Homo sapiens: one gene and its partner. The protein of the gene in region 1 purifies or fractionates together with the protein of each later gene. This does not show direct contact. Each region holds a gene or a part of one and is shown on either strand. Other genes may lie near its edges. The genes, in order: CSF1R and PTDSS2.

Evidence for each region.
Region 2: the proteins of CSF1R (region 1) and PTDSS2 fractionate together in Homo sapiens (co-fractionation; one large-scale study listed by BioGRID). This does not show direct contact.

Annotation. Positions count from the first base shown.
Region 1 is NC_000005.10:150,076,555-150,080,054, forward strand, and holds part of CSF1R (macrophage colony-stimulating factor 1 receptor isoform a precursor), read right to left. Parts: coding exon 3,498-3,500; intron 1,695-3,497; coding exon 1,558-1,694; intron 882-1,557; coding exon 722-881; intron 1-721. UniProt on the Homo sapiens protein: Tyrosine-protein kinase that acts as a cell-surface receptor for CSF1 and IL34 and plays an essential role in the regulation of survival, proliferation and differentiation of hematopoietic precursor cells, especially mononuclear phagocytes, such as macrophages and monocytes.
Region 2 is NC_000011.10:487,963-492,090, forward strand, and holds the end of PTDSS2 (phosphatidylserine synthase 2), read left to right. Parts: intron 1-236; coding exon 237-350; intron 351-566; coding exon 567-685; intron 686-1,437; coding exon 1,438-1,552; intron 1,553-1,625; coding exon 1,626-1,771; intron 1,772-1,920; coding exon 1,921-2,106; intron 2,107-2,457; coding exon 2,458-2,620; 3' UTR 2,621-3,437; downstream 3,438-4,128. UniProt on the Homo sapiens protein: Catalyzes a base-exchange reaction in which the polar head group of phosphatidylethanolamine (PE) or phosphatidylcholine (PC) is replaced by L-serine. Catalyzes the conversion of phosphatatidylethanolamine and does not act on phosphatidylcholine.

The DNA of each region.
Region 1 (3,500 bases):
CCATCACTCTCCTCTTTACAATGACCTCCCAATAGGTTAAGATGCAGTTATTCTTTCTCACTTTAAGACACCTTTACCTCCGGCTTCTGCCACCTCCTCTGCTCCCCTGTGGCCACTCCTCACACCACTCCACATCCCAGCTGTTGTCAAGTTCTTTCAGTGTTCCAAATGATCTATGTTCTCTTTGCCTTTGAGCCTTGCATATGTTCCTCCCTCTGCCAGAAGCGCTGTTCCCCTTCCTTTCCCACCCTTCTGCCCGGCCAACTCACCTTCATTCTTCCCATCCCAGTTTAGAGGCCACCTTCTCGAAGCCTGGGTTGGGGGGACTCTTCAGTGTTCCCAGGACACCTTGTGCTTCCCCCATAATCACTGGGTGATCATTGTCTTTTCATGTTTCCATAAAGGAATGCATGAAAGAATGAACAAATGAAGTCCAGTAGGGAGCTACTGGACCCCAATCCCCAAATAAACAAAAAATGGCACTAAGGTGCACCCAATGCAGCCATGCACTGTAAGAGCTCCAAGATGGGAGAGAGATCCCAGGAGAGGGTAAGGGAAAGCTCCTGGAGAGTGGCTCCTTAGCCAGGCCTTGGATAAACAAACTCCAGCAGAGATATCCTCAGCAGGTCTCCTTCCCTGACATCAGCTTCCTCCTCAAAACCCTTCTGCTCACACTCCTGCAGGATCCCTACCGACTGTCCACCACCACCCTGATGCTTACCTACCACCCGGAAGAACATGGAGGTGGAGTGCTTGCCCTGCACGTTGCTGGCCACGCAGGAGTAGTTGCCGGCATGTTGGAAATCTACTTGATCGAGGTTGAGGGTCAGGACTTTTTGGTAACGGTTATTATGAAAGTCAGATTGTTGAGGGATTGCGAGCTGCAGCCAGAAGGAATGGAGATGTTATACCAAGGTAGTTTAGGGATTAGAAAGATCTGGGTTCCAATCCTCAGCCTTTAAGGATTACTATCTGCCTTTCCTCTGAGCCTGTTGCTTCACTTGTAAAATGGGGCTAATACTGGCTCCCTGCCCCAAGACTGTAGTGAGGAGTAAATGAGATATGCATGCAAGTGGCTTAGGGCTGTGTCTGGAACACGGCAGGTGCAGTGGGAAGGGAGGGGGCTCTTAGAGGCAGCCCAACGTGAGTCCCTCCTGGAATCCTCCCTCCTCCTCCCTCTCTCCCAATGTCTTTCTGAAATAGCTGTTATATTCCTGGGCTTCAATGGTGGCCTAGGAAACCCTTGCTAAATCAGAAGTGAGCTCACCTCTGGCTTTTGTCTAAAGGCTGGGGCAAAGGCCATGTGTCAAGGTGACAGAGAACCACCTCCCCCCACCCACCCCCACAAAGTTCAGCGGCACAAGCATGAGTCCTGATTCTGTGTCAGCTACTGACTGGGAGTGAGATCTCGGGTGAGTCTGCACCCCTCTCTGGAGTCTGAGCTGTGCCTTCAGCTAAGACAGCCAGTTTGGAGTTGGGGGCCCAGGACTCCACCATGGGAAACCTGGTGTGCTGGGAGGATGGCCAGACTTCACCTTGTGATCTGCAGGGACTGACCTTGGTGTTGTTGTGTTGGAGGAAGACATCAAAGTTAACATCAACGCTGCTGGCTGAGCACACGATCTGGGCAGCCTCCCCTCGAATCCGCACCAGCTCTGCAGGCACCAGTGTCAAGGCTGGGGGCCCTGGGATGACTGAGACCGGGGGAGAGACCCCTGAACACCCAGGCTCCCTGAACATGATAGAGATATTGCTCTCCTCCCTGCCATGGGCCAGGACACACAGGCCAGGGTCCCCATCACTGCCCCATCCCAAATCCTGGGAGGCAGCCTTGATGCTCCCAGTCCCCCCACTGCAAGGCCTGTCCTAAAGAGACCTTGGAAAGTCTACTTTCTCCATCACCTCTACCCCTCCCCAGTCCCGTCACCATTCTCCACTCTGGACTTCTGCACCAGCCTCCTCAGAGACCTCCCTGCCTCCCTCCAAGCCCCCCACACCTAGATTCTTCACTAAAGTGACCTCTTACAAATATAAATGGGACCATGCCTCTCTCCTCTGTAAACATTTGGGGCTTCCCATTACTCTCAGAAAAGAAGTCAAAGTCCTTCCACAGCCCAACCTGTTTCTGACCGCCCTGATAACCCCACCCCTTGTTCACTGCACTGCAGCCCGCTGGACCTCTTTCCTACCACAGGGCCTTTGCACCCACCTTTCCCTCCTGGAATGCCTTTCCTCCCACACTTCAAATGGGAGGCTGTTCTCATCCTTCAGATCTTTAGCTCAAAAATTCCTCAGCAAGGCTTCTGTGACCAGCTGATATGAATTAGCCTCCCCAGCACCTCCATGCCCGCCACTCCCCAGCTTGGTTTCTTGCTCATCACATTTGTATTTACTTTCTATTTAATAGTTAGACTCTAGTCGAATGTCAAATCCGTGACAGGAATATTCCAGCAGCCAGCAAGATGCCTGATGCACAGTAGGCCTTGAATTCATATTTATGCCCATTGCTGCTGTTGAAAGATAATCTAATCCAGATTCCTAAGGCCCAGGGACATGAAAGGACTCACCCAAGGTCCCTGAGGGGGTGTCAAGGCAGAACTAGGGCCCAGGACCTTTGGCTCTTGGCCAGCCCAGGGCTCTGCAGGATGAAATGCCAGGAAAGAGCCCTAATGGCCTCCTCTGCCCACACAGCTGGGGTCCTTTGACCCCCTGGGCAGGTTTAGTGGCTTCAGATCCCAGTGGCATTGGGCTAGCTGCTTCACTCTGACCCTGGCCCTTGTTACAGGGACTGATTGCTGTCTCAAGCCCAGGTCCTCAGGCTGGGGTCCTGCTTGCTCTCACCAGTCCTCCCAGAAACCAGAATCCTGCCTGCCATCCCAGCAGGGTGAGACTCCACCTCCACTGTTACCTGGCCACCGCGAGAGCCATCACACGCACCCACCATCTCCTCCCTGCCTCTTGGCTCAGCATCCCTCCTACACATGCCCAGCACTTGGCCTTAGGCAGGCCCCCAGTGGGAAATCCATGTCTGAGGCTGAGCTTCCGTCCTCTTTCCATACCTAGAACATTCAGAGCCTGTCCCCACCTCACCACTTGGTACTCACTGTCCCCCTGCTGAAGCAGATCTTTGCACAGCCACCTTCTTCATGTCATTCAGATTTCCGCTCTAATAAAGTGTTTCCTTCTCAGTGAGGCTCCCCGCCCTACACACTCCTTATTCAGCTACCATGTTGAATGTTTATTTTTGTAGCATGTCCAATGACTTGAGATGACCTTGCCCACTGAGTTATTTGCTCACATGTGGTTTGTCTCCCTGCCCCGACACCTTGTCAGTCCTGCCCCATAGATGATCGTGGAACCATTGAGGGGAAGAAGTGAAAGAAAGAGGACATCCCACTGCCCCCCATCACACCCAGTCCCCAGTCACCACCCATGTGGCCGCCGGCTCTCTGTCCCCACTCTTCAGGCCTGGCTGCCGGTCCCCATGCCCCACGCACCTT
Region 2 (4,128 bases), on another chromosome or scaffold:
CAAGAATGCTGCCAGCCGGGGTGGGGGCTGCACGCACCCGTGGGCAGGGCCGGGCGTGGCCTGCGTCCCATACTCTGGCTGCCAGCCGGGTGGGGGCTGCACGCACCCGTGGGCAGGGCCGGGCGTGGCCGGCGTCCCATACTCTGGCTGCCAGCCGGGGTGGGGGCTGCACGCACCCGTGGGCAGGGCCGGGTGTGGCCGGCGTCCCATACTCTGGCTGACCCTGGCGCCCACAGACCCTGATGATCCGAGACTGGTGGATGTGCATGATCATCAGCGTGATGTTCGAGTTCCTGGAGTACAGCCTGGAGCACCAGCTGCCCAACTTCAGCGAGTGCTGGTGGGATCACGTAGGTGCCAGCACAGCCCCCGGGGCAGTCGGTGCAGGCTGAGGGGCATTCTCGGAACCCCTGTGCCCAGCGCGGCCCCTGGACCCCCTCATTCTCCCCGGGGGGCAGTGGGTGCAGGCTGAGGGGCATTCTCGGTTCCCCTGTGCTCTTCCGGGGTCCTCCTCGGGGGGCTCGTTACCCCTCACCCCTGCAACGAGTGCTGGCCCCTCCCTGCAGTGGATCATGGACGTGCTCGTCTGCAACGGGCTGGGCATCTACTGCGGCATGAAGACCCTTGAGTGGCTGTCCCTGAAGACGTACAAGTGGCAGGGCCTCTGGAACATTCCGACCTACAAGTACGTCGTGGGGGCTGCGAGGGCAGGGCCGGGTGGGGGTTACCTGGAGGCAGCCTCAGCGTCCGTGCTCCAGCAGACCCCGAGCACCAGGCCCGTCCAGTGTGCGGCTCAGGAGGGGTGACCGTGGGGCTTTGCCTCCTGGAACCTCCCTCTGACCTGGTGTCACTCAAGCCCGGCCGCCCCTCACAGTGGCCATGGCGTCTGACCCACGTACCTCCCTCCTCAATCCCTGGCCGGCCTGGCGCAGGGGCTGTGGGATCATTCCGTGCTTCTCCCTCCCTTGGTTGCTTTGGTTATGAAATAGTTGCAGGTACTTTGTCATTATGACTTTGGAATTTAAAAAAGAAACAGAAGTCTAAGGAAAGGCCTGGGGGACGGGGGTCTCCCCTCCTGCCTGTGGGTGCCCCGGCTCTGCCTGGCTCTGCAGACATGGCTAGCTCACGGCACCGTGGAGCGCCCTCTGAGGCGCTGCAGCCACTGCTCAAGCTGGAAGAGACTGAACAGCAGAGGGCCGTGGAGAAGCAGGGCTTGTAGCTGGGTGGCCAGACCTCGGAGAACAGCCGGGCAGCAGCTGGGTAACCAGGAACAGAGTCTGTGGCCCGATGGCACAGGGCGGGGCGGGGTGACCAAGAGCAGAGCTCGTCCGATGGCACAGGGCGGGGCCGGGTGACCAGGAACAGTCTGTTGCCCGATGGCACAGGGCAGGGTTCGGTGGGCTGCCTTCCTCAGGCTGCCGGCTCTGTGGTTCCCAGGGGCAAGATGAAGAGGATCGCCTTCCAGTTCACGCCGTACAGCTGGGTTCGCTTCGAGTGGAAGCCGGCCTCCAGCCTGCGTCGCTGGCTGGCCGTGTGCGGCATCATCCTGGTGGTAAGGCCGGGCTGCCTCGCGACGGCGCGGCGGGCGGGGGGCCAGAGCTGGTGCTCACCCTCTCCTCCCCTAGTTCCTGTTGGCAGAACTGAACACGTTCTACCTGAAGTTTGTGCTGTGGATGCCCCCGGAGCACTACCTGGTCCTCCTGCGGCTCGTCTTCTTCGTGAACGTGGGTGGCGTGGCCATGCGTGAGATCTACGACTTCATGGATGACCCGTGAGGGCTGCGGCAGTCCGGGTGGAGACACCCCCGGGGGGCAGGGGCCGGAGGGCTGGGGAGCAGAGCCTGGGAGGCCGGAGCCTGGGCAAGTCCGCCTGGAGGACCCTGCGGGGCCCGGGACGCTGAACCCCCTGCTGCCCCTGCAGGAAGCCCCACAAGAAGCTGGGCCCGCAGGCCTGGCTGGTGGCGGCCATCACGGCCACGGAGCTGCTCATCGTGGTGAAGTACGACCCCCACACGCTCACCCTGTCCCTGCCCTTCTACATCTCCCAGTGCTGGACCCTCGGCTCCGTCCTGGCGCTCACCTGGACCGTCTGGCGCTTCTTCCTGCGGTGAGTCAGGGCAGGGCGCGTATGTTCTGAAGGAGGGCCGCTGTCCGGGTCCCTTGGCACAGGCACTGTGGGAGTTTGGTGTCGTTGGTGTCTCACTGTCCCTGCTTCAACCCTCTGGCCGCCTCTGCGGGAGGCGCCTTTCCTGACCCAGCCCTCGGGGCCTTCGCTCTGCACTGACAGATCCAGGCTCCTCAGGGCTCCAGTCTGCCACGGCTGCCGTCCCAGGGCCAGGGTACCCGGCACCCACCCAGTCCATTCCGGACCTCCACAGGGACTAGGTGCCAGCTGTCCATGGGGCCTGCAGTGGGGCTGGTGTGGGGGCAGGTGGTGACGCTGCATCCCGCTCCCCAGGGACATCACATTGAGGTACAAGGAGACCCGGTGGCAGAAGTGGCAGAACAAGGATGACCAGGGCAGCACCGTCGGCAACGGGGACCAGCACCCACTGGGGCTGGACGAAGACCTGCTGGGGCCTGGGGTGGCCGAGGGCGAGGGAGCACCAACTCCAAACTGACCTGGGCCGTGGCTGCCTCGTGAGCCTCCCAGAGCCCAGGCCTCCGTGGCCTCCTCCTGTGTGAGTCCCACCAGGAGCCACGTGCCCGGCCTTGCCCTCAAGGTTTTTTGCTTTTCTCCTGTGCACCTGGCGAGGCTGAAGGCGAGGGGTGGAGGAGGCCCCAGCACAGCCTCATCTCCATGTGTACACGTGTGTACGTGTGTATGCGTGTGTGTACGCGTGTGTACGCGCGTGTGTACACATGCGTGGCCGCCTGTGGTGTGCACGTGTGCTCTGGGCTCCGAGGCTTCTCCAGAGCTGGGAGCTGGCTGGCGTGGCAAGGGCATGCTCTGGGGCAGTGTGTCCCTCAGGAACCAGGGTCCTCCCTCCCCTTTCTGCCTGGTCAGCCCCGTGGCCTCTGGCCCACCAAGCTCCCTGTCACCCAGCCATGGTGTGGTCCAGGCAGGGACATCTCGGTACCCTTTCTGCACTCCGTGGGCCCTGGGTGCGCTGAGGCCTGGAGGCGTCTACACTGGCTCCACATCCACTTCCCCCGCAGCTCGTGTGGGCGCTCGTCCACAAACACTCCGTGGCTGAGAGGCAGCGGATCCAGGCAGCGATGCTGAGCCACCTCCTCCGAGCCTTCCTTTCACACAGACCACCCCGGAGGACACGTGGATGATGGGGTCAGAGATCACTGAGCTGCCCCTCAAGGGGGCCTGGAACCCGGGTGCTGGGGTCATGCTGCCTCCGTGGCTCCAAGGTGAGGGTCATCTTCACGAGCAAAGAGAACCAATAAAGTGACAACGAACGTCTGAGGCTTCCAGCCCTCCCCCCAGCTCCCCGTGTCCTGCTTTGGGGTCCAGTGCAGCCCTCCAGCCTGCCCTCATGCCCAGTGCCCACTTGGGGAAAACCACACAGAGGACAGGAGGCACTCAGCCTCTGCACCTGAGCAAAGACTTGGCGCCTGCCCCGCCCCACCCCCCAGAGAGAGCAGGTGCCAGATGCAGCCCCTCTCCCATTCTCCAGGAGGGTCCAGGTGGCACCCACCCTCTGCTGCGCTTGTCCAAGGGCTGGCGGCCACTGGGCAGTGGACACAGGATTCCTGGGGTACTGTGTTTGTCCCAGGCTGGCAGACACTGGGCAGTGGACACAGGATTCCTGGGGTGCTGTGTTTGTCCCAGGCTGGCAGACACTGGGCAGTGGACACAGGATTCCTGGGGTGCTGTGTTTGTCCCAGGCTGGCAGACACTGGGCAGTGGACACAGGATTCCTGGGGTGCTGTGTTTGTCCCAGGCTGGCAGACACTGGGCAGTGGACACAGGATTCCTGGGGTGCTGTGTTTGTCCCAGGCTGGCAGACACTGGGCAGTGGACACAGGATTCCTGGGGAGGGGCAGCCGCCTTCTCGGGCCACTATTTTTATGTTTTTTTTTCTTTTTCTTTCCTTCCTTTTTGTGGAGAACGGGGTCTCGCTATATTGCCCAGGCAGATCTCGAACTCCTGGGTTCAAGTGATCCTCCTGCCTCT